Homo sapiens: one gene and its partners. The protein of the gene in region 3 purifies or fractionates together with the protein of the main gene of each other region. This does not show direct contact. Each region holds a gene or a part of one and is shown on either strand. Other genes may lie near its edges.

The links.
Region 1: the proteins of CHIC1 (region 3) and MCM9 purify together in Homo sapiens (affinity purification with mass spectrometry; one large-scale study listed by BioGRID and IntAct). This does not show direct contact.
Region 2: the proteins of CHIC1 (region 3) and ZNF92 purify together in Homo sapiens (affinity purification with mass spectrometry; one large-scale study listed by BioGRID and IntAct). This does not show direct contact.
Region 4: the proteins of CHIC1 (region 3) and NUFIP1 purify together in Homo sapiens (affinity purification with mass spectrometry; one large-scale study listed by BioGRID and IntAct). This does not show direct contact.
Region 5: the proteins of CHIC1 (region 3) and BBX purify together in Homo sapiens (affinity purification with mass spectrometry; one large-scale study listed by BioGRID and IntAct). This does not show direct contact.
Region 6: the proteins of CHIC1 (region 3) and KIAA0232 purify together in Homo sapiens (affinity purification with mass spectrometry; one large-scale study listed by BioGRID and IntAct). This does not show direct contact.
Region 7: the proteins of CHIC1 (region 3) and KIFBP purify together in Homo sapiens (affinity purification with mass spectrometry; one large-scale study listed by BioGRID and IntAct). This does not show direct contact.

Annotation. Positions count from the first base shown.
Region 1 is NC_000006.12:118,812,517-118,817,250, forward strand, and holds the end of MCM9 (DNA helicase MCM9), read right to left. Parts: intron 3,779-4,734; coding exon 2,308-3,778; 3' UTR 939-2,307; downstream 1-938. UniProt on the Homo sapiens protein: Component of the MCM8-MCM9 complex, a complex involved in the repair of double-stranded DNA breaks (DBSs) and DNA interstrand cross-links (ICLs) by homologous recombination (HR).
Region 2 is NC_000007.14:65,383,341-65,388,074, reverse strand, and holds part of ZNF92 (zinc finger protein 92), read right to left. Parts: intron 174-4,734; coding exon 47-173; intron 1-46. UniProt on the Homo sapiens protein: May be involved in transcriptional regulation.
Region 3 is NC_000023.11:73,680,927-73,685,660, reverse strand, and holds part of CHIC1 (cysteine-rich hydrophobic domain-containing protein 1), read right to left. Parts: intron 4,707-4,734; coding exon 4,656-4,706; 3' UTR 1-4,655.
Region 4 is NC_000013.11:44,943,773-44,948,506, forward strand, and holds part of NUFIP1 (FMR1-interacting protein NUFIP1), read right to left. Parts: intron 1-4,734. UniProt on the Homo sapiens protein: Binds RNA.
Region 5 is NC_000003.12:107,528,966-107,533,699, reverse strand, and holds part of BBX (HMG box transcription factor BBX), read right to left. Parts: intron 1-4,734. UniProt on the Homo sapiens protein: Transcription factor that is necessary for cell cycle progression from G1 to S phase.
Region 6 is NC_000004.12:6,879,420-6,884,153, reverse strand, and holds part of KIAA0232 (uncharacterized protein KIAA0232), read right to left. Parts: intron 3,368-4,734; coding exon 3,188-3,367; 3' UTR 1-3,187.
Region 7 is NC_000010.11:68,991,803-68,995,302, reverse strand, and holds part of KIFBP (KIF-binding protein), read right to left. Parts: exon of another isoform or gene 3,435-3,500; intron 1-3,434. UniProt on the Homo sapiens protein: Activator of KIF1B plus-end-directed microtubule motor activity. Required for organization of axonal microtubules, and axonal outgrowth and maintenance during peripheral and central nervous system development.

The DNA of each region.
Region 1 (4,734 bases), on a different chromosome or scaffold from region 3:
AAAAATCCAAAATCCAAAACATTTCCAGGCCTAACCATTTCAGATAAGGGATATTCAATATGTATTGGGTATTTTATTTCTTCTAATAATTATGTCTGTTTAAAATATTTAGGTATGTAGTTATTTCTATCTGGGTAAGTACCAAAGAATAAACATATGGAAGTGGTAATTTGGCCAAATCTTGACAGAAGGTACTAAAATGGAAAGTGGATTGATTAGCACAAAATAATAGGATGCATGGTGGGCACAAATTATAACCAGGTAGAAGGTGGCATTGGCAGTCATACACAATGACCAAGGAAGAAAGACAATTCAACATGTAATTTAAAATATGAATTACTCAGTGTCCTAAAGAGACAAGGTAACTATGAAAATTAAATCTCTCATTACTAAAAATGAAACCTCTAAAACCAAAAGTCCCAATAAAGAATACAAATATTTTAAATAACATAACAGATCAAAATACCCTAATGACATGCCAATAGGTTAGGTACTGTCAGCCATGCAAAACCTAATACATAATTACTGCAAAAGATACCAAGTTTCAAAGACAAAAATTCATAAGACATGGACTTAAAAATTTACCATTAAAAAAAGTCAGCTCCACACTGTGGCTTAGGTTTGAGTCATCCTCATCTAAATAATCAGACCACGCCCAGATCAAGATTCAGCTGGTCAAAAACCCACTTCCATTCCTTTTCCTTTAGTTCTGGTAAGAACACTGAAACCCAGGAAAGCAATAAAACTGAAAGATTAGGAATATATTAAGAATCATAGTATACTGGTAAATTATTAAACAGGTACAGAAATAATAAATTTTATAATCATTGTTTATATATGTCTTTTATCAGCTGTTTAAGGTGTTTCAAACTTCAGAGAATGGTACTCATTATGGCCAATCATTTCAAGACTCAGCCACACTAAATTTGTACTCACAGTTTAAATTTTTTCAGAAAATTTTATTAGTGAATTTTAGAACGTTTAAATGCTTAAGAAAAATTGGATTTTCTAAATTTGTTTTCAATGCGTGAATTGAATGAAGTGAAAATTAAACAAAATACATATAGTTTTGAGTATTCTATGTCCAAAAGTCCCTCTGACAATTAAACAATCAGTTTACAAATTCACACTTCAGAAGAGAAAGTCCATAATTACTGAATCCTAATAACCCTTATTAGAATCCAAAGGAATAAGTGATTTTAAAAGCACATAGAAAGACAAAGCTTGAGGTTATCTATTCTGACCAAAAACAGTATATAATTTCCTTGGTTTTAAAGACAAGTGAATCACAACTTAGTAGGAATCACATTTCCATATTAACCAGCTGGGTAGATGAGACATGATGTTTGATTGAGACTACCACATAGTCTCTCTTCTTCATTTATTTTATTTTTAGAGACAGGATCTCACTCTGTCACCCAGGCTGGAATACAGTGGTGTGACCACAGCTCACTGTAACCCCGAACTCCTGGGCTTAAGCAATCATCCTGCCTCAGCCTCCCCGAGTAGCTAGGACTACAGGAGTGAGTCACTGTGCCTGGCTCATACTCTCTCTTCTTCTAATCACAGTATTTTACTTGGTTGAAGGTAGGCCCCCAAGAGAAAAAAGAATCTGAAGTACAAAATGTTGGCTCAAGAAAGAAAGGACAACTCAGAAGGTCAGTACTTCAGAAAGGTACTGTTTGACCAGTGGCCAGATCTCTAAGAACATCATGGAATTGTAAGGATACCTCTCAAAGAAAGAAAAGCATTAGTCACATTTAACCTGATCCACACAAATCAATACAAAAATAATACTAGAAAAATAGTCTGATTTTGGCAAATCATCCAAGTGATTATATTCACTGTACTTAGCCCATTCCAGGTGAAAATACAAAAAAAAAAAAAAAAAGTAGAAAAGAGTTCATCTGCCTTGTTAGATTTATGAGTGCTACCTTCTTGACATTTGTTCCTGAGTGAATGAAAGAAGAAATTAATCTAGGGAAGAACCTCTCCCCCTTAAAAACAAAACAAAACAAAAAACAGAAACAGCTTCAGGAACAGGAATACAAGTACTCCATTTGTAAAATTAAGCACAACATAATTAATTCAGCTCAGCTGCTGGTATCACACTGACCTCAACTGATTATACAACTTTTTAAGTCATGAAGATTAACCTGAAATTAGAAAGCCTTAAGGGGGAGCCAGTATTCAGAGTGATCCTCAATATGGCCAATTGTTCTATACATTTATAAATACCATATTGATATCCTGAAGGTCCTCTGTGGAGTTGAAGAAGGTGAGATTTGACCAGAAAGCTTTTCCCAACTATGACTTTTTTCTCATCTCTTCATCCCAGTCACAATCAAATGCTTCATCACCTAGTTCTGGTAAAGTGAAGAGGGATTCTTTGGAAACAATCAGTTTCTCGGTGGACCCACGGAGCTGAAAAGATTTCCTTTTACTGACACGCATTGGAGCTGTGGTTGTAGGAGGGGAGCTTGGGCCTCTCTCACCTCGGTTCTTCCTTTCAGGAGGAGGGGATTTTGATTTGGATTCCGATGGGGGAGTAAAGCAGAAGTTTGCCAATCTGGCTAATGTGCAGGCATGAACCTTGCCGCTTTTATTACTGCCTGAAACCTCTTCCTTTTTGTCTCCCTCACAAGTAAGATGAGCACACCCAGTCTCGTTCCCAAGCTCTAATTCAGGCTGAATAATCCTCTTCTCAGGGGCACACATCACCTTCTCTCTTGGTCCGTGTTTCTCTGGTGGCTGCTGCGACACCTCCTTTGTCTCACCCTGTGGCTGACTGGAGATCTGGTTTCCTGGGGTAGATGTTAACTTTCCTGGACGCTTCACCGGCAAGGCTGCGTCTCTTCTTGTTCTACGCTGGGAAATTTTAGGACTATGAACTGCTATTTTAGTTGCACCAGGTGACACATGGCTGTGATCTTCAAAGGAGTGGATCAGTTTTGACTTCTGCTTGAAAGTAAATTTTGCCAGTTTGGCCACAGGGGAACCTGGAGGCTTAACATTTTCAATTGCAGGCTCTTCCACTTGCGCAAGGGATTTCGGTCTCTTTCTTTTGGGTGAGTCCAGCATTCTGTCTGGGCTATGTACAGGAGTGGACTGAGGATGGGAAGGGACTGTGCACTGTGCAGGCACCCTGGTGCTATTTCTGCACAACTTCTGGGCCCTCTCTTTGCACAGCTTCTGCAGGTTCCTGGGGACATGATGAGTCAGTACTGAGTCTGGTTTATCAGCAGAGACTGCTGCTTCAGAATCTAGTGCTAGCCTTTTTTTCTTGTTACTTTCCACATTGTCTGCCCTCCATGGAACACCTGTCTCTCCTGGTGATGGAAGCAACCCAATGTCCACTTTGCTCCTTTGGCCTGGCTCACTCTTCTCCTTACCCTGAGATGTGCTGTTAGAGATCTTCGAAGCCATATTTTCTCCAGATGTTTTGGGATGAGGAGACACAACAACAGTGTTTTTAGGTTCACTCTGATGAGTTGCCATGAAATCAAACCAATCTAAACTGTCATCTCTGTTATTTTTGTGCTGAGCTGAATGTTTCCTACTTGTTGATCTATTAGGCTCCAGATGCGGTGGGGGATCTAGAACTGGGCTTCCCTCGGGGCTGCCTCCAGGAGAGAAGATATGTGTGCTATAGTTGATTTCCTGCTGTGATGAAGTTCTGAAGTTTGATTCTTCCCCTGGACCATTTCTCAAGGATCCTGGAGTAGTCTCTACCTCCAATACCCGTGGTTGGGATTGGTGCACACTCTGATTCTGTAACCTGTAGCAAAGACAAATAAATAAAACATGTCTTGAAGGGAAGAGAATTTGTGCTAACCTATTCATTTCTTTAGTCTCTGAGATACCATCTTAAAGATTTAAGTCCCACATAATTCCAAGTTAATATCAAATACAACCTCCTAGAGCAGCAGAATGAAATAATCCTTTTTTAAATCAATATACAATTTACATACTCAGATAAACACTAATTTAACCTAAAATTGTAGTAAAATAAAGAAAATGAAATCGGAGATTTGTCTACATTTTTAGATCTCTCCAAAAGTCCAATTCATTCATTTAAGATTGTTTGAAGATCAGTGTAAAATCCTCAGCTTTATCTCTCATGTTAAATGTTCAAATACAAGACAGACCTGTTGCTACCCACACAGTAGCTGATTGCTGACCAAGTAGGTTGTTGGCTAACTTGCTTAGTAGTCAGTTTGCAGATCAAGGAACCAAAGTGAAAGACTGGGGATTATGAGGTCTCACATCTCTTTACCCAGTTGAGGTACTGAGTGCATCTGAGCAGTCACCTTCCTCAGGAGTCAAGAGTCTGTGATACTTCTGTACTGGTGCTCACACTGCCGCCTCCTGTACTCCCATTCATGGCAGACCTCCCCAGGCAACTGTGACAATCTTTCCTGCAAAGCCCAGGCATGTTTAAACATATTTACTGGGCAGCTACTCTTTTATCAATTTGATACAGAATTAAAATCTATTTACTTTCTACGAATGAAAGATCTGTTCAGTGATAATCATTTTAAATGATTTTAAATCATTTTAAATATCTTGGGCATATTAGAAACTGAAATATTGCCAGAAGGACAACTTTCTTGTTTTTTTTTACTTTAAGTTCTGGGATACATTTGCAGAACATGCAGGTTTGTTACATAGGTATACATGTGCCATGGTGGTTTGCTGCACCTATCAACCCATCATTTAGGTTTTAAGCCCCAC
Region 2 (4,734 bases), on a different chromosome or scaffold from region 3:
TGAAACTTTTAGAGCATTGTGTATTGTGTATTGAAGTTATCCTCACCAAGGAAGACCAGGTTTCTGTAGTTCTCTAACATCACATCTCTATATAAATTCCGCTGCGCAGTGTCCAGGCATTGCCATTCCTCTAGAGAGAATTCTATTTTCACATCCCTAAATGTCAGTGGTCCCTGAAAAACACACACACACACACAAACACACATATGTTTACTAAGTGGCCATGGGCAGAATTTTTTATTTGACTTAAGGTGAAATGAAAGAGTAAAGAGAACAAGTTCTGACTTACAGGAGTGACTGAAATGATCCAATAAAATAATTTTCAATACAGAAATATTTTCTAATGTATTCTCTAACTCTGAGAAAAGAGAATGACATAAGATCCATAACACCAGTGTATACATGATACTTTTCTGGATGATAAAGTATAAAATTAAGGGCATGAACACAAACGTACATTTCTGAGTGTATATGTTTCAGATGGAAAAGACATGGAGTTAGAAGTGACCTCTCAAATTTTAATGTGTATGATAAACTGAAGATCTTGTTATGCATATATTTTTTCAGAACATCTGGAATAAAGTCTGAGTTTCTTAATTTCTAAGAAGATCACCAATAATGCCAATGATTTTTGCCCAAGAAGATTATTTTGTCAAGCATCCAGTAAGGGGGAGGAGTGTGGGTTTTCCCAGTTTTTCTGACCCATAAACAAAGACGAGAGCCTTCATTTTCCAAAGACAGATATATGCAAAGAAAACCTAATAAAGAAGGGCAGCTGCCAGATTAACTGTAATGGTTTATGCACATCAGCTGCATAAAGATACTTAATAACTGGCTGGGCCCAGTGGCTTATACCTATAATCCCAGCAGTTTGGGAGGCTGCGGTGGGCGGATCACCTGAGGTCAGGAGTTCAGAGACCAGCCTGGCTAACATGGTGAAACCCCATTTCTACTAAAAATACAAAAAATTAGCCGGGCATGGTGGCGCGTGCCTGTAATCCCAGCTACTCAGGAGGCTGAGGCAGGAGAATTGCTTGAACCCAGGAGGCGGAGGTTGCAGTGAGCCGAGATTGCGCCATTGCACTCTAGCCTGGGGAACGAGAGTGAAACTCCGTCTCAAAAAAAAAAAAAAAAAGAAGAAAGAAAACAGATACTTAATAATCGAGAGAAAAATTACTAACTCTATAGTGAAAAAATCTGTCAGAGAGCTCTTTAACCAAGTGAATCATTAATATCAACTGAACTAGGACAAATTTTTATAATGTGCTGATGAACAGAAGGACACAGCATCACTGCTGGGATATTACTTCCCCAAAAAGTAAATTATAGCCTGAATTTAACCATAAAGAAACATCCATTTTATGCAAAGTTTGAGATACAGATATCTCCCATGTTCTGCAATTTTTAATAGTAATTTTAAATAGTCTTTCTTTAGCACCCTAGACAACATATATCTCCTAATAATTTTCTTCAGAACTTTCTGGGTAGTAAATGCCATCCTGTTTCAAAAAGCATTTTCTTAATCCTGTTCTGCATAGAGCTAATGGAGAAGACAGATGAAACCTCAATATTACATGTTCTCCTTGACTAAGGACCCCAGCTTTTCCCCAATAGGAATCTTGAGTATATTCATCCTCCCATATTCAATAGTCACAAAGGGAACATTTTTAAGATCATAAATTCATGGTGAGAATTCTACATGGCATATAAGAAGCCATGATGTAGAGAAGGCTCCAGTATATAGGAAGAAATATTTGCCTGGGTGCGGTGGCTCATGCCTGTAATCCCAGCACTTTTGGGAGGCCAAGACAGGCAGATCACAAGGTCAGGAGTTCGAGACCAGCCTGGTCAACACGGTGAAACCCCGTCTCTACCAAAAATACAAAAATTAGCCGGGCATGGTGGCACGCGCCTGTAATCCCAGCTAGTTAGGAGGCTGAGGCAGGAGAATTGCTTGAACCCGGGAGGCAGAGGTTGCAGTGAGCCAAGATCATGCCGCTGCACTCCAGCCTGGGTGACAGAGTGAGATTCCTTCTCAAAAATAAATAAATAAAAATTTTTCAGATACTTGACTATAATGAAAATTTTTTACAGTAGTTAAAACAAACTCATTAGGGAGGAAAAGCACAAGTAGAGAAGGTTTATAAGTACTAAACACATGGCATTCCAGGAGGCACAGTGGACACAGCTCTTGATCTGAGACACTTTTAGCGGAAAAATAGCCATTTTTTCCTCTTTCTCTTCCTGCTCTGGGATTCTTTCTCAGATGATTCTCTGGAGAAATTACACCTGAATCTTAAGAATATGGCTTTAAAGGTGTCGGCACCACCTGTTTACCTGCTACCACCACACCCACAGGCAGAAGGTCCAAGACCTGCAGAAAAAGTCCACCCATTTCTGTCCTCTATAACAGAAGAGATTCAGGAAAAATAAGCTGCTCTATGGAGATAATGATATCTCCTTTCCCGTCCTCAGATGCCCTCTGCTACCACAGACACCAACAATTTTTGCTAAAGTAATGGAAATATGGGGCACTCTGCCCTGTCCCTACCAAACCCAAAGAAAACAGGCCTTGTGACCACCCTTTAGTGCGAAGATAGAACTTAACACTCACGAATGTATCTTGAATCCCTCATACTTGATTCTGGCCTCACCTTAGAGTCACATGAGGCCCTTAAAGCAATATGGATGTTTCCAGAACAATAGAACAGAACCTGTGGGGAGGGCACAAATAGAGATTTCTGCAAACTGGCTATGTAATCTTAATCAGAAGCCTGGGCTGATAAACGCTTAGCTAATTATTATCTCTCAAGCACTGATAAGCTTATAAATCACTTGGTGATTTTGGCCCCACTCTATGTAATGTGATTCTGCAGGTTTGAAAATGGTCCATGAAAGGGTATTTTAAACAAGTCCTCTATAGATGCTGATGTTGCTCCCCCTGCGCTCATTATTAGCACTAGTTAGACAAAGCAGGCACATCACAGAATCCCTTACACTCAGCACTCTTGTCAAAATACAAATACTTCTGGTACAAATAAAGACAACCAATCTTCATCCTAAAGTATATTCTTTGTTGGCTCTTTAAAGTTTACAGAGGAAACAGAGGCCAGCAATGTCCAAATAAGTCTGCATTTGGAAAACAACATTTACACATGCACTAATGCAATGTTTATTAAACAGGTACTATGTCCTCAAGAGTATGTTACAGAGTACTGCTAGGAATAAAACATTACGTGATTTAATCCTCGTAACACCCTGGGAGTTGGTTTTGTTTAATAATTGCCAGAATTTAGAAAAAGGGCCCAGCATTTATATTTGTCATTTTTTTTGTGAAAAATGTACAGAATAAAAGCTACATATAGACAGATGAGAGGAATAAAGAAAAGAGTTTAACGTAGTTTGGAGGAATTTTTATTGTGTTTATATTTACTTGTTTGTGGCTTGTGGAGCAACTACTGGGTCTTCAGGAATAGAATAAGGAATAAGTTGCTAAATGGCATGTTTCTGCATGCACTGATTTTAATACAAAATTAAGAAATTAAGGCCCTAAAATATTATTTTATTTTTCCCATTTATCTGCTTTTAGATTTCAAGAAATCCTGAGCAACAGCTCTAGAAAGGCAGCCGAATTCATCACCCAAAACACTTCTCTTTCAATCAGTTCTGTAAGGCTAGACTCCAAGGTGAAGCCAGACTTCAATAAGGCCTCCAAAAAGGGTGAATCTGAACAGAAATGGGGCAGGGAGAGGACACTATGTAGAATTCTGCTCTCTATGCCACTGGGGTATTTCCGTTCTGTTTTTCCTAAGCTTACCTAAGAGAAACTTAAATCCCACAGTTTGTGTAATTTTAATCTTTTTTAGCCACTGCCCTGTCAATTTTATAACATATACTAATAAGCAATTTAAACAAATCTCTTAGGGCTTTCTAGCATAATTGTATTAGAAGATAAATATGTATTCTTAACAAGGTAAAAGAAACAGAAATAATAATAACAACTCTTCTGTCCATAAACATCCATTCAAATGATGACCTCAGAAGTCACAACAATATAAAGAAGCGGCCCAAATGAAGCCCCCATTTTTTGGCGTGACTCATTTCTCTTACACTGAGACAAAAGCAGAATGAACCACTCTTGTCAGCCTAACACAGTTTTACTCTGGACATCCTCAAATGTTTCAAAGATGCCTAGGTGATTGTGAGAGGGTTCTCAGTGATCCTGGGCTGATGGCCCAGTAGTAAGCCAGGCAGTAGAGACTTAGGCTGATTCTAAATAGAAAACAGAACTGCCCTGGTGGAGCTCCAGAACCTGGATTACCTGTCCTGATCAGGTAGTCTTTGGGTAAGAGAAAGGACAAGAATACTCTACTCCAGTATCACATTTTTTACAGGTAGGTATAGTTGTAGTCATGGCTCTGGATACTTTGTGGCCTTGATCTCTCACTCCTAAGATGCTTTGTTTACATTTACAGATTCTGCCATCAGATTCTATTTATACCTGGCACCTCTCACGTAACAGTAACAGGTCACTGAACAAGATCTGAAAAGCTCAAATAGCCACACTCTCAAAGGAGGTAGCTTTAAGATGTCTATGTTGACATCTCACAATGCAGAGAATGCCTCCTCTTGGTTTTCTGTACATTTTCAATCCAAAGTCTGCTCCTGTCTTGCAAATCCCAGGCCAGACATGTGAAGATTCTAGATGGGGTCAACCTGGCTCTGCATTCTTGG
Region 3 (4,734 bases):
CCTCAATTCCCCTGTGAGGTAGGTCCAGATTATTGTCCCCACTTCGACAATGAGGACGTGAGGTACAGAGGAATTAAGCAGCAGAGCCAATAATTAAACCAGAAGTGACTTGTATTTGAGTCCCATACCACTTTCCTTTCCACCTAATTTTATCAATTTGTTCCAACAGATCTTTTTGAGGGTATGGAATTTGATTAGACACTAAAGTAAATGTTGGATAGGATATGAAATCTTTACATAAATGCCAAAGTGGGTCCTCCAATATTTCCATTGTTGTTACAGCTAAAATTCTTGCCTGAATACCAACTGCATAGACAGATTCTACACAGGCAAAGGACACAGACCTCAGTGCTCAGTTCCTAGGAAAACTACATTTACTCTTAGCATCACCAAGGAACTAAGGTCTAGCAAGCATCAGGTTCTTGGAGTCTGTGTGATAATTAACACGTCAGCCAGTCGGCAAATCAAACTTTTACTGCATGCAAGGCACTGTGAGAGTTTCCACCAAGGACAGTAGATCTGAGAATAATCATTCTGAGATTCTATAGAGTAAAAATGTCCTAAGAATTCCTTGAATCACAGAATGTTAAGTGATCTCTAATTTTTTGTCCAGCTCTAGGTTCCACCTCATCATTTTACAGAAGAGACAGACATGCAATTAAGATGACCTGCCTGGAGCCCACAATATTAGATCATTTCCTCATATAGTATGAATTTGACAAAGTTCACAGAAAATGGAACATACTCACAGGGTGCCATCAAAACAAAAAGGCTGGCTCAGAATCAGGTAAGAAAAATTTGGGGCAAGATAAGATCATTCATTTTTACATACAGATATATATCAATTGTTTTAGTCCACATACTACATGAACAGGTATTAATAAAACCTATTCATTTTTATGGAAAATTTCCCAATTGTTTGCTATTTAAAGGAACCCAAATAATTTGACAGTTGTTGCAAAATATTTTTAAAGTATACTTTTATAGGCATGAGAATCTAATTTCAATAAATTTGAGCACTTATAATCAAATTAGCAAAAAGTATTTCTACTATGTGAAACTGCTCCAGTTAATCAGGTGAATATAATTTCTATATCCTCCTAGGTCAATATAGTACATTTTAATACAATATTGTTTGGGAGCTTTATGTTCAAGTAGTGAGGTTTTATTTTTTTAAATGGCAGCTTATTTGTAAACAAAATAAAAGTGCTAATGATCTTTTAAAGCTTTCATACATTTGTTCAAAGGCTTACACGTTTTTAAACTTTATTCAAATTTCATCAAAAATGGTAGATAAAACAGTTTGATTGCTCAGATATTAGTGTTTACAGGCCATAATAATATGAATAGTATGTACATTAAATACTTAAATGGGTTTTGGTGGGGCTTTAATCAAAGACAACTGTCCTTCCAGAACTAAATTAAATTACATGTTTACTAGCATTAGAATTATACTGTTTTTTTAAGTGACTGATAGTCCGGTTCTGTAATATTTTGTCACTAATATATCATGATTGGGGAAAAGGAAGGAAAGAAGCTTTACATAATAAATAAAAGATAATACACTAGTAAAGTATTCTTAGACCTAGTTGAAAAGGATGATTTCTAATCTAATCATCTACCAATTCATTTATTATGCTTCCTTACACGTAATGTGTTATCTTTGTTCTAAAAAGACAAGGCACTTCTCCATCTTCTTCTAAAGTTTTACTACAGTGGTCTCTTTCCTAAATTAGCATTAGGAGGGAACAAAGAGTGGAGACATATCTGGGATGGAGTTAATAAATCTGTAAATAACACTTGCCCATATTAGTTATTAGGAATAAACATGTTATTGGCTTTTAGGACAAGCTTAAAAATAGCCAGTTGGACAAATTTATGAAGCCAGAATCTTGGGCCAAATGAGAAACATTGGAACATTAATTTTAAAAAACAATTTTAGCTTGTAATCTTAAAGCCTTGTGAGATTTATATACTTTGGCAAATACATGTTTTGCTCTGGAAACTATCACAAGTTTCATAAAGGAATATTATGTAACAAAGAAATTCAAAATTACTTTCTTCAGTCTAAAAACAACTTTCACAAAAGTATGTTACTAACCTAATGGAAAATTACAAGTATGTTCTATCCTAAGCATAACAGAAAAAAGGCTCCATGGGGGAGGAATTAATCACCAGTGTGCTGTGTCATTTTAGCATTCACTGCAACCAATTTCACTGAAAACAAAGCAACCCCGCCCAAACATTACAAAATACTCAATTGCTAATCAGCCCCCTGCAAAGGAAAACAGTTTGAAAAAGTAGTCATACAAGAGAGGAAAAAAATTGGTATTTTTTTGGGTAGTTGAAGAAACTAAGATGAGTCAACCAGCATAGCGAACAATAAAATAATAAACTCGAGTGATTAGAATAGGCTTTAAAATTAAGTTTACACATGCTGACAAGTGGTTTTTGTGACAAATGCTACTGTAACTTGTATTATACTGTGTCATTTCCAGATATACTGTATTCCCATTCTCAATAATTGTTTCATGGAAACAATTCACCACTTCATGCTGTTCTTTGAGCAAAACCAAGTGTGATTTATACATGGCAGAAAAAGTTCCTATGACCATCATATGATCAAATTCTAAGGTTATAGAAAAAAATAAGATTTCTAAGGATCAACACTTAAAAGCAATTTTCTATCAGTGAAAATGAGATATTTTGTATTATGCTGAAAATCGATTTTGGTATTAAAATATCACAGTTTGAAGCATAAATTTGATAACATTAGCTGGAACATAAACCTCAGATACAATTTTTCCCGACCTTAGCTACAAAACAAGACATTTGGTATACATTTTCAGAGGCTTCTACCTTGTCTATAAAAATACACCTTCAATTTTGCAGCAGGCAAACACATAATATTTGCAGGCATACACATTACTAAAGGTTAGAGATTTGGGGTGACTGAGTGGCACAGAGGTAATGGGGCACAGAGGAAGGTGGAAAAGTGTTTGTGCAAACAATTATAATCACATATAAAATAGTGTCTTCTTTTTCCTCTCTTTTTTAAACTGGTCAAGGACTGTGGATTTCAAATTAGGCATAAATTTTAAGAGTGGCTTAAAAAGGCTTGACCTTCTATGAAGAAATGATTGTTCACTTCACTGAGATGAATCTTGCCTAAAAGGTTTACTAAAAGCAGTAAGAGTAAGATGACAAAATATTACTGAGCCCTAGACACTTTTATTTTTAGCACTATGAATTACAAATAATGCCTACAAACAGGCATACATTTGCAGTTGAATTAATGTGATATAAAGCTTTCATTATACTGAATTTTCAAATTCTAGTTGTGTGGTGCTAGCAATCATTTTAATTGTGAAGAAAAATAGAGAAATATGGACCAAATAAATGTTACATATGTGCTGAATTTATAAACTAAAATACTTTTGTCTAAACACTTGTCTTTCCTCATTAATGTTTTATAAAGGATCATCAAAAACAGAATTGAGAATTTTTTTTCAATTATGAATCAGCTGCTATATACTCTTTAGCTACAGCTTCTCAAATAGTTCTCTCTCTTTCTCAAACTAGAATATCAGAACTGCAGAAAGGTGTTAGTGGCTTTCAAGAGGGTCTAGATACCTTCTGAAGATGTCTGAAATCTCAAAATACTCCTTAAAAGTCATAATTGTGTGTATTTTCAAAGGAAGAAAAGGCTAATAAATGCAGGATAGTGAGACTGTGAAATGTGTCAGATGTCAAATAGTTTTTTTGTGGGAAGGAGTAGACAACAAAATGGAAATTATTAAACGAAATGGAAAAATAAAGGTCATGGTTTCAGGTGCAATACAGAATATCTGAGATAATAATTTCAATTTTAGTCCACTTGTTACAAAGGGCAACCTTGCCCTACACCTGAAATTCTTAACATACTCATTATGGCCTTGCCATAAAACAGCATGTTAGCAGTTTCTACATTCAAAGGGATGCTTGCAAACTTCATTCATATTAAAATCTATGTAAAATTGTTGGCAATACAATAAGAGTAATGTTACATTATGTAAACCATGGCATACCACATTTTACATTATGCAAAGAGGCAATATTTACAAGTCTTTAGGAGTTTAAATATTTTATCCACTAACATAAGTGATAAAGCAAAGTGCAGGACAAAACCAGTGCCATTAATTGCATGTCCTTTAAAAGCATGTCCTTTAAAAGCAGAGTAAAACCATTTCTAAAAGCTACCAAAAGCTTATTTAAGTTTGTCCAGTAAGGGATTACAGAGCATCAAGTAGCCTAGAAAAATGATGCGAGTTTAGAAACAATGAGTATGAAAATTATAAGGCAGCATGCTCAGAACAAGTTTTTGTTTTTTAAACACCAACACTGATGATTTATCTTTAATGGCAACTATCTATATATGTATATGCACACACGCATGTGTGTGTATTTAAAATTGAGAGTGCAAAACACAAGCCTCATTGAAAGACAAAAAAGATGTGCAAATTTTCTTCATAAACCAACACAAAAGAGCGAGAAGAATATTCTACCATTATAAAGAATAAGTTGAACACAGCAAAGGAGACCATCTTCATTCCAAATCTACAAGGCACTAAGGGTAGGAAATGACAGGTAACACAGAAGTGACTGGATAAAACTCCTCAGTCAGGTCGGAATATGGGATATTTTGGTAAGAATTCTATTAGTATTACCTGCAAAATAAAAACAAGAATATATTTA
Region 4 (4,734 bases), on a different chromosome or scaffold from region 3:
CATAATATTGTTCACTTAATAACTTAAAACTATGAAAGATTTTTGCAAGGCATTTATAATGTATTCTAGTATTTTTCAAATTGGAAGCTGTAACTACCAAAAATTGAGAAGACTACCATGAAGAGCTACAGAAAGTGATCTCTATGAAAGAAATAATGCCAGATGGAAACTTGGATCTATACAAAGGAAGGATAAGTGCTGGAAAAAGTAAATATGTGAATAAATATAAAAGACTTTTTTTCCTCATTGGCAAAATTTTAAAACTAAAGCAAAAATATTAAGTGTATGTGCAATTTATAACATCTATAGAAATAAAATCTCTGACAACAATAGTAAAAAGGCAGAAGGAATATGTAAGTAGTATACACTGTAAAATCTTAAATTACATGTGAAGTAGATATCATTTGAAAGTACACGATGAAAAGTTAAGCTGCATACTATAAACTGCAGACCAACTCCTAAAAAGTAAAACAAAGAAGTCAAAAGGATGAAAGAAGATACCAAGCATATACCAATCACATGAACGCCGAAAGTCTGTATTAATGTCAGACAAAAAAGACTTCAGAACAGTGAACATCACCAGGGATGAAGTGGAACAGTTCATAATGCTAAAGGGGTCAATTCGTCAATAAGACAAAGAATAACACCTAAGAACAGATTTTCAATATGCATTGCAGCGAAAACTGATAGAACTGAGAAGAGAATTAGACAAATCCATTATTATGATTGAATATTGAACGTTCCAATCTCAGTAATTAAAGAAAAATTGGACAGAAAATTCGTAGGGATACAAAATATCACTAACGATTAACTCAAATTGACAAAGAACACCCGACCTAATACATTTTCTTGTCAAGTTCATATGAACATTTACCTTGTGTTGGGCCATAAAATAAGTATCAATAAATTGAAGAAATTGAAAGTATAGAGATATGTTCTCTGACTGTAGCAGAATTAAACTAAAATCATTAACAGAAAACTAGCTAGAAAACCCCCAAATATTTAGAAACTAAACAACACACTTCTAAATAATCCAAGAGTTAAAGAACAAATCATAAGAGAGATTAGGAAATATTTTGAAATAAATAAAAATGAAAACATAATGTATCATATTTGTGGACTACAGCTAAAGCAGTTCATGAAGGTACATTTATGGCTTTCAATGCTTAAATTAGAAATGAGAAAAGTCTAAAATCAATTATCTATGCTTCTACTGTAATGTGTAGGGTCTGAGGAAAGAGGAAATACTAAAAAGTGAAAATCAGTGGATTAGAGTGAAAATCAATGACAACAGAGAAAAACCAACAAAACCAGAAGTTGGTTCTTTGAAAAGATTAATAAAATTAATAAATGCACCAAGACTTTTTGAGAAAAAGAGAAAAAAATCAATTAACAACTTGAGAAATAAAAGAGGAGGACATCATTATAGATCCTACAGATATCACAGGAAATATTATGAACTATATACCAATAAATTAACAACTTAGGTGAAGCAAATTCTTTTGAAAAACACAAATCATCAAAACCCACTCAAGAAGAAATAGGAAAATATGAATAGTCCTGGACCTATTAATGAAATTTAATTCATAATTTAAAACTTTCCCAAAAACAAAATGCCAGGTTCAGATGGCTTCACTACTGAATTCTACAAACAAGAAACAAAAAGAAAAACTGGTAGAAATCCTACACAAACCCTTAAAAAAGAGGAGGAAATAGATCCCTACTCATACCAAATCTCTTACAATAAAAGAAAACCATAGACTAATATCCCTCATGAACATGTATGCAAAACTCCTTAATAAAATATTAGATCAAATCCATCAATGTATTAAAAGGGTAATAGACCATGACCAAGTAGATTTTATCCTGGGAATACAGGCTGGTTTGACATTTGAAAATCAATTGACATTTCACCATTATTAACAGAATAAAGGAGAAAAACCATATGAACAGTTGAAAATTCACAAATTTTAAGCTCAGAATCTTCACCTCTCCCCACTCCCCAATAGTTATACTATTTACTTACTATGAATCAGTGTGATATGATATAAAGAATTCTATTCTAGAAGTTGGGAGACAGGGTTCAATTGCCTAGACAAGAGTGGCAAAACCCATAATACTCAAACATTACATAGGACTGAATGTAGAAATTATATTTGAAAAGAAGTATAGGGACAAGTGTTAAAAGCAGACTCTGGTGCCAGACTGTTAGGTTCAAATCCTAGTTCCATCATTTACTAGCTGTGTGACCTTTGGGCAAGCTACTTATCTCTACCTAAATCTCTTCATCTATAAAATAGAGATGATAAATAAGAAAAACCAGGACACTATTTTCTATTATTCCCTTCCCCTCAAGTATCGATCACTCAATTCAGGAACACAAAGTCAAATGAATCAGAGCTTATAATTGTCAATTTTCTGCTAAGAAATGAGGACGGGACTAACATTTATATTTTTCTCTTTCTTGAGATTTACAACATTTCCCAGATAAGTATCATATATTAATGTAATGTTCACCAATTAAATTTTAAATATAGCTCATTCAGTTCTATCAAACATTTAACACCCTTTTTGGTTTGTGGCCTTCTGAAATAGTCTTTAATTTGGAAATCTCCCCCATTATAGCCAAATCAGTTTGAGGAAACATAATTTTGGGGAGTTGTAAAACTGTGCTTAAATTCTAACACAGTTAAAAAAATGCTAAAATGCTAACATGCAGAATAGATATTAAACCAACCCATTTGGAAGTATTTCTTATTAAATTTGTATCTTAGTGATTCTTACAGACCCTGATGTGAGTATTACCTCTTCCTTTGCTTCAGTCTTACTTGAGGGACACTTTCCTTGTTTAAATATCTTTCCAGAAAAATGCTATCCATGTTTAAGATTCCAAACACTTTCATGCTAATTCTTAAGTCAAGACAGATCTTAATTATGAAGACACAATTGTTAAACTCAGGAAGAAACAGATTGTTCCTATATATTTAGAATCCAGGTAAATAAGCAGCCTTCTAGATACTATTTCATGGTTAAAAGACCACTTTGTTTCCTTGGTATTATTTATTTAAAACTCCCTATGTGTCAATATCCCATCCTAGAGCCCAGAATTAATACTGAAAGCTAGAAATTTGCTAGTGACCTGGATGGCTTAATAAAGCTGAATTCAAATTATATAAAATAATTCTTAAGACTTAGGAATGTGAAGCAAGGGTTTTTTCCTTAAAGCAGGACATTTTAACAATTAGTCAAAATACATTCATACAAAATCTTATATATAGTTTAACAGATAATATCCTTTGTTATCTATAAAAGAAAAGTCTACGCATTATTGTGCAGGATGACAGTAAATGCCAAAGAGAGAAAGACTATAATGGAAGGCAATGAAAGTTGGCTTCTTCGGACTTTTAAGACTCCAAACCTATATGTCAGGTCTGCTACATACCAGCTTGCCAAGCTTATTCCTTTTTTTTTTTTTTTTTTTTTTGAGATGGAGTTTTACTCTGTCACCCAGGCTGGAGTGCAGTGGTGCGATCTTGGCTCACTGCAACCTCCACCTTCTGGGTTCAAGCAATTCTCCTGTCTCAGCCTCCTGTGTAGCTGGGATTACAGGCGCACACCACCACACCAGGCTAATTTTTGTATTTTTAGTAGAGATGGGGTTTCATCATGTTGACCAGACTGGTCTTGAACTCCTGACCTCCGGTGATCCACCTGCCTCGGCCTCCCACAGTGCTGGGATTGCAGACATGAGCCACCGTGCCCGACCAAGCTTATCCTTTCTATGCTTAAGGTTCTATAAAATAAAGAGGTGATCTCAAAGATCCCTTCCAGTTTCCTTTCTTCCAATTTAAAATGATGGCAGTCTCAAAATGAAGACATGAGTATAAAAATACTGTTCCATCTTAAGAAACAGAGAAGCAAGCATTAGTCCAGCCTGTTTTTATGGGATTCTGTAATTCTGGTAATAGTTTTCTTTGCTATCACCTGTTATGAATACAACTGATAAGCAGGAAATGTAATATGTGTTTAAAGAATAACTCCATCTTCACACCAATGTATGAGAAACAAGAGCACAAAAAAATGCTATTTTTCTTAAAATTAAAATAGGCAACCATCTGTTAAGGAATACTGTGATAAAGCCAAAGTAGCTTATATTTCAAAATTCAAGTAGCTATTAAGAAGCTACCATAGTAAGCCATGGCCCACTTAAAAAAGAAAAAACTTCCCATGTTACAGATACATGTAAACACCATTTTTCATATTAAAGCCTAACGGCTCCTTATTCAACATCTTCCAAATACATAAACATTGATTATCTCTAGCCTAGTCAACATTAAAAGTGCTGCCATCTCCATCAAACTACATTTCCTTTTTTTTTTTTTTTTTTTTTGAGCCAGAGTCTCACTGTCACCCGGGCTGGAGTACAGTGGCACAATCTCACCTCACTGCAACCTCTGCCTCTTGGGTTCAAGCAATTCTCCTGCCTCAGCCTCCTGGGTACTGGGACTACAGGCACGTGCTGCCATGCCCGGCTAACTTTTGTATTTTTTGTAGAGATGGGGTTTCACCATGTTGGCCAGGCTGCTCTCGAACTCCTGACCTCAGGTGATCCACCCTCCTCAGCCTCCCAAAGTGTTGGGATTACAGATGTGAGCCACCGTGCCTGGCCCATCCAATTACATTTGAATCTTCTCTTCATTCTATATAAACACTTTTAGACCTGTATTCTTATTC
Region 5 (4,734 bases), on a different chromosome or scaffold from region 3:
AATGTTATGCAGATTTTAGTGTGTGTTTAATAAAACTAAAAACAACAACAAAGGAATCATCACGTCAAAATGGAATATAAGAGGTTCAGTGAAATGTGAACTAACCAGGTTCTGCCTGAGTTTAAGCTTTCCTTACCCAGAAGCCTTTAACTTGGCTCAACTTAGATGGTACAAATGATGTCAATGACTACCATTTTGCTTACCTGACTTTATATCCTTATGCCTTACACCTGTACATTTGGAGCCACAGGGTTTCAGCAGACAGTCTGATTGAGGTAATATATAATGTTAAAAAATCTTTCATCATTTGTTAGCTGGCAAGGAACTTAAATTGTTCAATGATCAGTGATCAAAGTTAGCAAAATAATTTTTCATTGGGTTAAGTGGTTAGGCATATCAGAGAATTTCACTCTACCAACCAAGGAAGTTAATGCAATAGGATCACAATCCCTTATTTAAAACCCTTAGGTCCTGATATGCTTCAGGATTCAGATTTTTGTGGGGTTTAAAAAGGCAAAATGGTACCTATAGCACATATTACATAACATTCCTAGCTATATCTAGGATAATACCTCACAATTAATCAATATTATTATTTCCAGCAAAATATGTGAATATTCTAAGCAGGCTTGAAAACTACTTTAAACAATCCCATGACAGTATGGGTTAGGTTTTGCTACCAAATGAGTTTTGATACCACACTTCTGAAGGAAAAAAAAAACTTTTAGTTTTTCAGAGCTTTTTAGATAAAAGATTGTGAATCTATTTCCAATACTACTACATCAAAGTACTGAGGCGTTTTCAAAATATAGAGAGCTTATTAATTTACCGGAGATCAAAAACGTATGGCAAATTAAAATTTAGCAAAGTGGGAAGACGTTCCTGGCAAATATAACCTTAAAAATTAGGAAATGCCAAAGTCACTTAATTTTGATTTATTCACATAAATTTAATGATTGTTGAGACTACTTAAATTTTTGTGTCAATGTGTATTTGAGTACGACAGTACCATTTGAAAACCCTGATACCTGTAGTCTTCTGTATTTTCTGTACATTTCCCCAGCTTTTGGTTTTCACATTGTTTTGAGATTTCAGGGATTTAATGTATTCCCCATTTATCTTCTCCTTAGCTTGCCCCTCTTTTCAAGTGCCTATTTTGTGCAATGTAATTTGTTAAGCACTACATATGTAACACTTCTCAATCTCCATGCCTTGACACAAGGATGGGTTTTGTTTATGAGGAACACCCCAATTAGAACAATTAAAGTACCATAATTTACAATTTTCCATGTGTTTATTAAGTATATTCGAAGTTTTCATTATAGCACCATTCTCACTTGCAATTTGATATGCCTTTCTTGACTTTTTTTAAAAAAGGAGTGGCTTTATCACACTGTGAACTACCTATAAAACTCACAGCATAATTTATCTGTCTGTTAACCAGGGGAAATCATAATGTCCCATATGTAAACATTGGTCACATGTTTTTGTTTTGGTTTTTTTTTTGAGACAGGACCTTGCTCTTTCACCCAGGCTGGAGTGCGGTGACACGATCATGGCTCACCGCAGCCTCAACCGTGCGGGCTCAAGTGATCCTCCCACCTCAGCCTCCGAGTAGCTGGGCCTACAGGCACACACCACCACCCCCAGCTAATTTGTTTTTATTTTTAGTACAGGCAAGGTCTCACTATGTTGCCCGGGCTAGTCTTAAACTCCTAAGCTCAAGCAATCCTCCTTCCTCAGCCTCCCAAAGGGCTGGGATTACACATGTGTCTTGACGGAAGAAAGTTTGAGAACTGATACTCTAAGACATTCTAATATCTATAAGTCACCAGAGAGAATGCCCTGTGCTGACAAGGGAGAACTACCGTGAAATATGAAAAGAGCTGTTCTCTCATCCCATACTCTACTTTTTTAAAGAGGTGGGAAAATCATTCCCCAAACCTGAAGGAGGACTGTACTTTACTGTGGCGTGCCTCAGCTGTGCTTGGCTTTTCTCCTTCTGGTTACTCTTATTATTTCCTTCCCTAACAAATTACTTGTCCAGCACCTCATGTCTAGTTAAAAACATACCCATGTTTCATGATAACTAGAGGTGAGAATCACTTTAGAGAAAAAAAAAAAACTAAAAGGCTTTCAGAAATTTCAAACAGTGGAGGGTAGGGTGAGATGAGATGTAATTACAAAAACAGAGACTATATATTGAGCGCTAACTGTGAATAAGGGTCCTACATTCATTACTGTCTTGTGTAATCCCCATATTATTGCATGGTAAACATTACCATACCCATTGTGCACATATGAGAATAAAAGTTTAAGGGATGTGAGGTAACATGCTCAGAGTCCCGCAACTAATAAGCAATAGAGGCAGCAGGAGTGGAACCTAGAGCTCTTTGGTGGTACGGCCTCTGTTCCTTGTACTACACCTTCTACTACAGGAGCACCTACAGAGGGTGATGAGGACCTTCCTCAGTATTGCAAACATACTGACTGAAATACAGCCAAAGAATGGTGAAGATGCAAGACACCTCATAAAGTCAATGAACTTCAGCCCCACATTCAGAACATCCAATCTTAGGCCATCTGTCCTTTGTACTGAGGTTTCTCAAAGTCAATTGGAGGACCTCCTACTTGCTTTAGAATCACCTGCTACATGTGCTAAAATCTAAATTCCATGGCCCCACCCCAGAAACACTGAATGAGAATATCAAAGGATGAGGCCTAGAGACCTCCATTTCTAAGAAGGCAAGCAGGCACTCTAGGCCAGTGTTTTTCAAACTATAAGTCATGAAATCAATTTGATAGATAATACCTAGTATTTTTTGTTTAATAAAATGGCTTGAAACAGATTGGATTTATAAAGATTAGTTAGGAATAGAAAATATCAGAGGGCACTGCACTTTGTCCTGTTTCAGGAAACTTGTTTCAGTTCTTTTATGTGGATTGGGATGTTAAAGGTATTTTTTATAATATACCTCAGTCAAAAGTATTTGAGAAATACAGCTGTTTTGAATAATTTTTACCCCATTCTTATTTCTCCTCTAAAGTAGGTTATTGGCCTTTTATTTAATTATTCCTATTACAAAAAATGCAACCTTGTATGTTCCTTTTAAGAGTTCAGTTATTCTGTTCCAGGAGTTTGTTTTATTCCCTGAACTTTTCATCCGAGGACCATGTTTAACCATTGGCTTAATTATTTAATCAACATTTTAAAATATTTTTAATTTTTTAAGATTTCATAAAATCCAATTCATTCTCATTGTTACTTTGTGTTTTTCTGTTTTGTTTTGTTTTGTTTTGTTTTGTTTTGTTTTGGAGACAGAGTCTTGCTCTGTCGCCCAGGCTGGAGTGCTGTGGCACAATCTCAGCTCATTGAAACCTCCAGGTTCAAGGGATTCTCCTGCCTCAGCCTCCCAAGTAGCTGGGATTACAGGTGCCCACCAATACACCTGACTAATTTTTGTATTTTTAGTAAAGACAAGGTTTCACCATGTTGGCCAGGCTGGTCTCAAACTTCTGACCTCAGGTGATCCACTTGCTTCCGCCTCCCGAAGTGCTGGGATTACAGGTGTGAGCCACCAAACCTAGCCTGTCACTTTGCATTTTATACAAACCTTCTCATTATCTGAAGTCATTTCACTATCTAGATTCTCGAACTTACATATTTTAACTTATTAAGTTTACATTTTGGTACATTTGGTAATATCAATGCTTCATGGTCTACATTTAATCTTTTAAGTCTTTCATTCTCTCATCTTCTATTTATATATACTTTTAGATGAAATTCTTTACTGGCTTGCTTCTTTTGTATTCTCTCACATAACTGGCACTTATTTCAATTCTTACCTGTTTCCTTGAAAGCAAAAAAAAAAAAATGAAGACAATCCCCATTAATACATGAGGATTTTCTGGGTATATCTGTACAGTTTTAAAATGATGTACTGGCATTTCAAGGAAATATAACTGCCTTCTAAAGGATAATATCACATATGAACATTGAGCGAAGTTGTAATCAAAAAGTGCTTTCCACAGGTATGACTTAAAATACAGAAATACTGACAATTAGACACAGTATGTGATGACTACCCTTGAGGTAGTACAACACCCAGTGACTGAATGACAGTCACAGAATCTTCAAGCTGGAAGAGCCTCCATTCAGTCTCAGTCTTTCTCTTTACCTATTCCCTTCATAGCAGTGTTGCTCAGTGTACTGAGGACTGCCTGCATCTGATTTCCCTGGGACACACGATAAAAACAAAGCAGTAAGATTACAATGTCCTTAGTAAAGTTGAGTTTGTTTTCATTTCATAGTGACAAGAAGGAATCTGACAAAAAATACAGGAGAGATACCACTCAGGCCCATTTCAAAAGGTACCCTCAGTGGTGAAATGTTAAACAATGAGATGGACTTCAAGGTACAAGTTCAAGAAAAGCATCTTCCTCTTAAGTTAAGCACCTGCTTAAGGTTAAATCTTAAAGCACAGGTATGCCACGTTGGTGGTAATGTAATATGTTAAAATTAATGCCTATATTTAGTAATTTGGAGCATTTGATGTAACAATTGTCAACATTTTATATACTTTTTTAAGACACTAATAATAACTTCAGGGACTTCCTGTAGTACAGCAAAAAGGCACATCTGTAATGGAACTGTTTTCAAAAAGTTCTTTTTTTAGTAGTATAGAGCTGTGAAGCCTTTACCATTTCTATTAAAGATTTCTAATATAAAAGTAA
Region 6 (4,734 bases), on a different chromosome or scaffold from region 3:
TTTTTTTATTTTTCTTTTAATTCCATTTTCCATGAACTTTTAAAAGTCCCCTCATACATGTTTACAGATGTCCATAGAAACGTTATTCAGATACTGAATAAACAACCAAAAAAACATTGTTTTATCAATGAGGAACCTGTTAAATCTACATAATACAGCTATAAAAATAATTATGTAGTTCTATAATTACCGACATGAAGACATCTGAGTAAAAACCTATTTCTGATGTTATAGAAGAACAAGTATAGTACACTCTTGAATGTAAATTTCTCTGTGTATGCATTCATATATACTGTACATTCAGAATCCTGGAAAGGGGCTTGCACAGATGTTACCAGTGTATGTCTCAGAGTGACAGAAGGACATATGAGTTTTCCTTTTCCCTTATACTTCTTTAAAAACACACTGATTTTTTTTGCACAATGAATATCAATCATATTAACATATAAAGATTTAATTTTTTCCCCAGAAGAAAACAAAAAGATTGAGCTTTGTGTACCATCCACGGACAAAAATGCTATGTGTTTTGCAGACTCAGGTAGTAGTCCCTGCGTGTGCTGGGGGTGAGATGGGGAGGAGCCGCTGATTTCTCAGCAGGCCACACCACTTTCTTCCCTAGCAAAGCTGCACAATGTTTTCAGCAGTGTCTGCAATGAGAGCTAAATGACCTCCATCTAGAACAAATGTAACCTGGGCACTTGCTCTTCCACGGATGCTCATGAGTAAAAGGAAGCTGGAGTTCTTTACAAAAGAAGCTTTGCTATGAGAAATAAAAACAACAAACTGTTTTTTACAATTTTTATTTGGTGTTAACTCCACAAGAAAACAAACAAAAAAAAATCAGTTACTCTGGTGTACGTGAAATCAGAACAATACAACCACGGGAAAAACAATCTCAGCCCAGGAATGGAAACTGGTACTTCAGTGCTATGGAAATGCAATGCGCTTCATACCACAGTGCGTTTCAGCGTTTGCCAACTTTTTAAAAATGCTTTTTCTTTGTGATCATCCATTCACAAAACTAAAAAGCCACACTTTCATCTCTGTTGCTGAAAGCCTCTGAGCTTCAGCTACTTAACTATGAAAACAAATAAATACATAATTTGTGAATCCCTTTGCTCACTTCGAATCCGTCCCATTCACCTGTGGAAGGTGCTGCATCTTCTCACCTGTGTCTGAGGAAGTGTGCACCTTTGCCACCTGGAGCCCTTTCCTAATAAACAGCAGCTGTCCAAAATCAACTGTGCTCAAGGTTGTGTCTGAAATCTATTTATTTGGTCTTTGCTACACAAGCAACGATTTCTAGAATAATCGTCACTGTAGTGATATGAGGAATTTACAACTTTCAATCCTTTTTTACTTTTGCTGTTAAATTATATTTCAGTGCAGATGCTTATCAATTTTTAGGAAGCTCCAGAAGAATGAAAAATACATAAAAACGTATCTGAAGTTCGTAAATAAATAACAGCAACATAAAACCTTACACATGCGCGCGCGCACGCGCGCACACACACACACACACACACACCCACCCACCTTAAAGTGTCAAAAAATGTGTTGTATAAAAATAAACCCTAACACGTGGGAAGATCGACCCGGCGGGCACACCAGGTCCCTCTCGGTGAGGACACACAGACCCTCAATGACTCCACAGTCTTTGATGGTACTTTCTTTTCTGTGTTATCAATTAAGAAAAAGGCAACAAAACCCAAATGTTCAAAGCAAATCATAGATTTCACAGCCAGTTCAGCTCCCAGCTAATAAATTATATGTGTGTTTACTGCCTGCCCAAATGAGTGGTGAAGCTGTCTAGAGCGCATCAGACTTTTCTGCCATTCCTGATGCTCCAGGCATGCTACGCTGATTTCACAGATTAGGTTTTTTTTGTTTTTGTTTTTTAAACAATGAGTTGGTTAAAAAAGAAAAACAATGTAAAAAATGTAAAATGTTTCGGCTGTGCACATACTGCTCCTCCTGGCCTCTGCCTGTGGCACAATGCCATGAGAGCCGGAGGAGCGGATCGCCATGCACAGACGCGACTCACAAGATGCGCCGGCTCCCCGGGCTCACCAAGGAGAAACGGGAGCCAGTCCCACGGAGCGACAGTCAGCAAAACCACCACACAGGGATGTGGAAAACTCATGACTCTACCCGCCCCAACCCACCACACACAGAACTTGCCCAGAACATTCTCTCAAACACAAAATGAGATCGAAGCTATACTACATCACAGCCAAGAAGCGGCTAGCTGCAGCAGCCAAAGATTTCTCTGGGTGATGAGGTGGCCTTTACTGCATGTCAAATGTTCACAATTTCAAGTTTTGGGGGTTTCAATTCAACATAGGTCACCAGAAAGTAACAATCTGTAACTAAGGTCCTTAGCACGTATGGAACACTCACCACAAAGAACCCTGCATGGGGTTTTGGTGTAAATGTAACTGCAGTATGAGAGCAGGTAAGGGGTGGGGTATGCACCCTTACCCCACTGTGTCTCGCATACGACCCCACACCCCAAATCCTTGGCTTCTTCAGTTAGCAAGAAAGTCACGAACCATAGTATCTTCCGTGATACTTTAGGGGAAAAGAAATCCTAAGAGAGAAAACACAGTATTTGGTGAGTCTTGAAAAGCACACCTCTGCGGTTCCTACTGGAAATGTACATGAGATTTTGCTGAATGGAGACCACCGCTGAGTCACCCAGGCTTCCCTCTCGCCTTCAGAAAGGCATCAAGCCACTGTAGGGTAAGAATGGATATCCCAGTTCTTGGAGAACAAAGCCTAAATGCTCCAAAGCTGAAGTCTCTGAAGAGCAGAAGTGGTTGTTGACACTGCAATGCTAGTAAGGTCATAGTGATATAACCGCAGTCGGAAGGAAAATTAACTGCAGTTAAGATGCAAAAAGCAGTGATACTTCTAAGACAAGCACATGCACACCCATTCTTGATTTGACAACACAATCTAGTCTATTTCAAATAGCCAAGAATTTAACAGCTGGGAAAAAAAATCTTTAACAGGATAGCTGTCCTCAACTCTAAAATAAGCAAGAAGAGAAAGATAATTATTACCAATCTGAATCAGTTAATTGAAGAGGAAACCTAAGTTGTTGTTTTAGATTAACAGGTCTCACTGAAGAGTAATTTTCCATCACATATCATTTTTAAACAATAATTTGTACTATTTTGCAGGTTTAGAGATGAGTTCGAGAAAAGAGCTCCTCTTCACTAGGGCCCACCCACTCGCCTCCGCCTTCTGAGCCTGTCTCTTCCGAGGTGGAGCTGGCGCTGGAGCACATCTTTCCGCGGAAGCCATCTGACTTTGCTCCAGAATCTCTCTCTCCTGTACATCTTGCTTCATAAACAGAAGACACCTAAGATTAAAACAATTTTCAACACATCAAAAAGACTTTTTTTTCCCCAAAAGGGTGAGATACTCTATCTATATACAAAGAAGAAATAATAAATCATCAGTGTTTTCCTGTGGAGTTACAAACATGCAGAGTTTTACTGTTTCAGAGCAAAACCGCCTCTCTTCTCTGATCCATGAAGGATCCAAAATCCTAATTCCACATGTTCAGTCACTTGGACAAAATGTTAGCCATGTTAGGGTAGGATAAAGAATTATTTCATTTTCAAAGTCTTTGAGTACCTGCTATGCACCAGGAACTTTACTGGGCACAGGGACTCCAGCAGTGGAAGGCGCATGCCAGGCTCGCTGGGGAGATGAACGAGCAAACCAACATGTGCCAGTTGCAGTGACACAGTACCGATGGTGAGGGGGGCACTGCAGACGGGTGTGTTGGGAAGGGAGTTTGCAGTGACACAGTACAGATGGTGAGGCGACACTACAGACCTGTGTGTTGGGAAGGGAGTTTGCAGTGACACAGTACAGATGGTGAGGGGACACTGCAGACCTCTGTGTTGGGAAGGGAGTTTGCAGTGACACAGTACAGATGGTGAGGGGACACTGCAGACCTCTGTGTTGGGAAGGGAGTTTGCAGTGACACAGTACAGATGGTGAGGCGACACTACAGACCTGTGTGTTGGGAAGGGAGTTTGCAGTGACACAGTACAGATGGTGAGGGGACACTGCAGACCTCTGTGTTGGGAAGGGAGTTTGCAGTGACACAGTACAGATGGTGAGGCGACACTACAGACCTGTGTGTTGGGAAGGGAGTTTGCAGTGACACAGTACAGATGGTGAGGGGGCACTGCAGACGGGTGTGTTGGGAAGGGAGTTTGCAGTGACACAGTACAGATGGTGAGGGGACACTGCAGACCTGTGTGTTGGGAAGGGAGTTTGCAGTGACACAGTACAGATGGTGAGGGGGGGCACTGCAGATGGGTGTGTTGGGAAGGGAGTTCTTTGGAGAAGAGGCCCGCTCAGCTGAGAAGCCAGCCATGCAGAGGTGCCAACACTCTGTGGTGTCGGACTGTCTCCCCTACACCAGATGGTCAGCATCTCTGGACCCCAGGACATGAGATGCAGTGGTGGCCCCTCCTCAGTCACAGTCATTACAAAGCTCCCCTCACCCTGCCATAGTAACTAGCAGCACTCCCACCTCATTTCCAAATGGCAGCATTGCCCCTGGTTGAGAACCCCTGAGGCAGAAGCACAGAAAAGCCACACAGAGTAAGGGGAGAGCAGAGACAGATGAGGTCAAAGGCAGACGGGGGCAAAACATACAGGGCTGTAGAGGCGTGGCGGGGAGTTTGGATCTGTCTCAAATGCAACAGC
Region 7 (3,500 bases), on a different chromosome or scaffold from region 3:
TAGGCTGGGTACAGTGGCACATACCTGTAATCCCAGCACTTTGGGAGGCCAACGCAGGCGAATCACTTGAGGCCTGGGCAACATGGTGAAACCCTGCCTCTACAAAAAATACAAAAATTAGCTGGGCGTGGTGGTGTGACCCTGTAGTCTCAGCTACTTAGGAGGCTGAGGTGGGAGGATGGCTTGAGCCCAGAAAGCAGAGGTTGCAGTGAGCCGAAATCCCACCACTGCACTCCAGCCTGGGTGACAGAGCCAGACCCCGTCTTCAAAAATAAAATAAAATTTCTACATAGTCCCAGCTATTCAGGAGGCTGAGGTGAAAGGTTCACATGATCCCAGGAGTTTGAGGCCAGCCTAGGCAACATAGTAAGACCCTGTCTCTAAAATAAAATAAAATTCTACAAAATGCAGGGTTGGGGGCAAGCAGAAGGGAGGAAAAGAATATAGGAGAGAGGGAGGGACTACAAAGGAGCACAAGAAAACTTTTGGTGGTGACAGATATGTTCATATCTTGATTGCAGTGATTGTTTCACAGGTATAAATATATATGTCAAAACTCATCAAACTGTACCCTTAAAAATATGTGCAGTTTATTATATGCCAATTGCAACTCAATGAATCTGTGAACAATAACAACAAAAAGTACTCCTATACATATATAACCTGGAGTGGGGACAGCAATCTACTAATTTCCTAGGAAATTTTACTAAAGTGAAGTAATCAAGATGGTAGTGCCAGTGTGTACTGGTGATAACAAGGATCAGAAGGAATACCAGATAAAAATTATTCCTAAGGCACTGGAACCCAGAGAAGACAGAAATCTCTTGATAATCTAATGTAATATCAATCTCTTTTGATAAATAATATAGAGCCAAGTTCTGTAGTTCCCCAAGGAGAATACACCAGATTAAGACAAAGCAGTTAGAATATCATGAATTCCCATTAACTGATACTTGCAAAACTCTTCCATATACACACACATACATACGTATTTGTATATATTCACATGTATATAAACTTTTTACTATATGTGTATATATAATGTAAGTATGTGTGTGTGTGTGTATACTTAGTCTTATACAAAAATAGGATCATTCTATAAATTTTTTTTTTTTCTGAGACAGGGTCTTACTCTGTCACCCAGGCTGGAGTGCAGTGACACCATCTTAGCTTACTGCAGCCTTGATCTCCCAGGCTTAAGCAGTCCTCCCACAGCCTCCTGAGTAGCTGGGACTACACATGCATGCCACCACACACAGCTAATTTTTGTTTTTGAAAAACTGCTATTTATTTGACCAGAAAAACATTTTGGACTTAAGAAATGGCAATAACTGGCACATATACTAATTCAAAATATTTTCACAAAGCACCAAATAGAATAGTTCCCAATCTTTTCACTGAGAAACCTTTGAAAGAATGCCTAAAACTTAATCAGTTTACTTAGGTTTTTAATCAAGAAATCTAAAGCAGCCAATCAGAGTTTCTAATTACCATGAGATGACCAGGTTAACAACCTTGAGGTTGCAGGAGCTTTTAAAAGCTTTGTTTAGGCTGGGCTCAGTGGCTCATGCCCATAATCCTTGCACTTTGGGAAGCCGAGATGTGAGGATCACTTGAGGCCAGGAGTTTGAGACCAGCCTGGTCAATATAGTGAGACCCCATCTCTATAAAGATAAAATTAAATTAAATTTAAAAAAAAAAAAGCTTTGTTTAACCTACGCATTCTAACTGAGATTTGTTGACCTCAGGCTACTAATCACAGGTCCATGTGCCAGATACCTTGCACACACAAAATTGAGTAATAAGTATCATGTATAAAAGATAAAGACTATATGGTCCCTGTATATTTAAAAGGAATAATACCTAATTCTCATGGGTGAACAATTAGTGAGGGGCAAAGAGACAGACAGAAATTACTAACCCACAAGGGAGAACCAAGCAAGGTCAGTAGAAAAGAGAAAAGTCCTGTGCTCTGGGAATGCAGCAGAAAGGGCATTGGGAGGTTGCAGGGACCAGGCAGCAATCCAGGTCATACCAGGAACATGAGTGGATGTCAGTAAGTGTGGGAAGGAGCCTTCAAGGCTGAAAAAAACTAAACAAGCCAAGACACAGAGCCACAGGAGTACTGCCTGTTCAGAAGACAGTGAAGCATGTGTTCTGGGTAACACGATGTGAACTAAGAAGAGACATAAAACTCAGGAAAACCTCACCCAACGAGAGCCCAGAAACAACACTGGTCTGTATTTCTTAACAGCAATTCAACAGAGAATCTGAGGTGGCCTGCAAAACTAACAAGAGAGTAAATTATCTTGAAAGGGCAGGGGCACCACATGCTCTCTGTGGAGGTTCAGTAGCCAAGGATCACCCTGCAGCCCCTCCCCAACCCTACTGTGACACCCCAGACCCTTGGAATCAAATCCACTAGCAATAACCTTCCTTAATGGAAAATCTCTCCCCTCCCCAAATGTAAAACAAAAGATAAAAGCAAAGAAAACAAAACAAAAAGAGACCATCAGAGCAAGCTTTAGCCCTCATAACTCATCTATGCCCCACTGACAACAGGGTCTACTCCATTACTTAAACTGATTTGTAACACTGCTCCTACTACATCCTCCTCTTCAAAAAAAGTAAATAAACACCACACAAAATATAAACTTACCCCAAACAAAAGTCAGCATCAACCTAAGGATCCTACCGTAATGTTACTACGCTAACCCAGGATATTTTAATCTTCTTCCAAACCATTTACAAAAAAATTCCTCATCTGAGACCTCTGGAAGCGTTACAAATACTGTTACATTAGATTGTTCTTCTTGAGGTAGTTTTAAGTCTTGAAACAAAAAATTTACCTATTTTTCTACACCACTGCTAAGGGGTTAATTATTATAAAATGCCTACAACCAAAATCCCCATCCCCTTGATTCTCAAGCTATTAGAAATTTTTCCCTCATATCAAACAAATGGGAAACACACATAAAAAGATGAAAAGTCATGCAAAAATTTTTAAAAGGCCAGACACAGTGGCTTATACTGGTAATCCCAACACTTTGGGAGGCTGGGGTGGGTAGAATTGCCTGAGCTCAGTAGTTCGAGACCAGCCCGAGCAACATGGTGAAACACCGTCTCTCTAAAAATACAAAAATTAGCTGGGCATGGTGGCAGGCACCTGTGGTCCCAGCTATTTGGGAGGCTGAGGTGGAAGGATCGCTTAAGCCAGGAGGGTGGAAGTTGCAATGAGCTGTGAAGGTGCCACTGCTATGTAGCCTGGGCAACAGAGGAAGATTCTGTCTCAAAAATAAAAATAAAAATAAAAAACAAGCAAAAAAAAAAACCCACATAAAAAAGAAAGTGTATCATCATACGAACAGTCTAAACTTTGCCTAAGACAAAAAAAAGTTTACTTGGTTTACCCAAGGTACAGGCATGTTATAAATAAAGTACTCAAGAAATTAACATCTTATAAAAATAGTGAAAAAATTTTAGGTGGGAGCATAAAACTA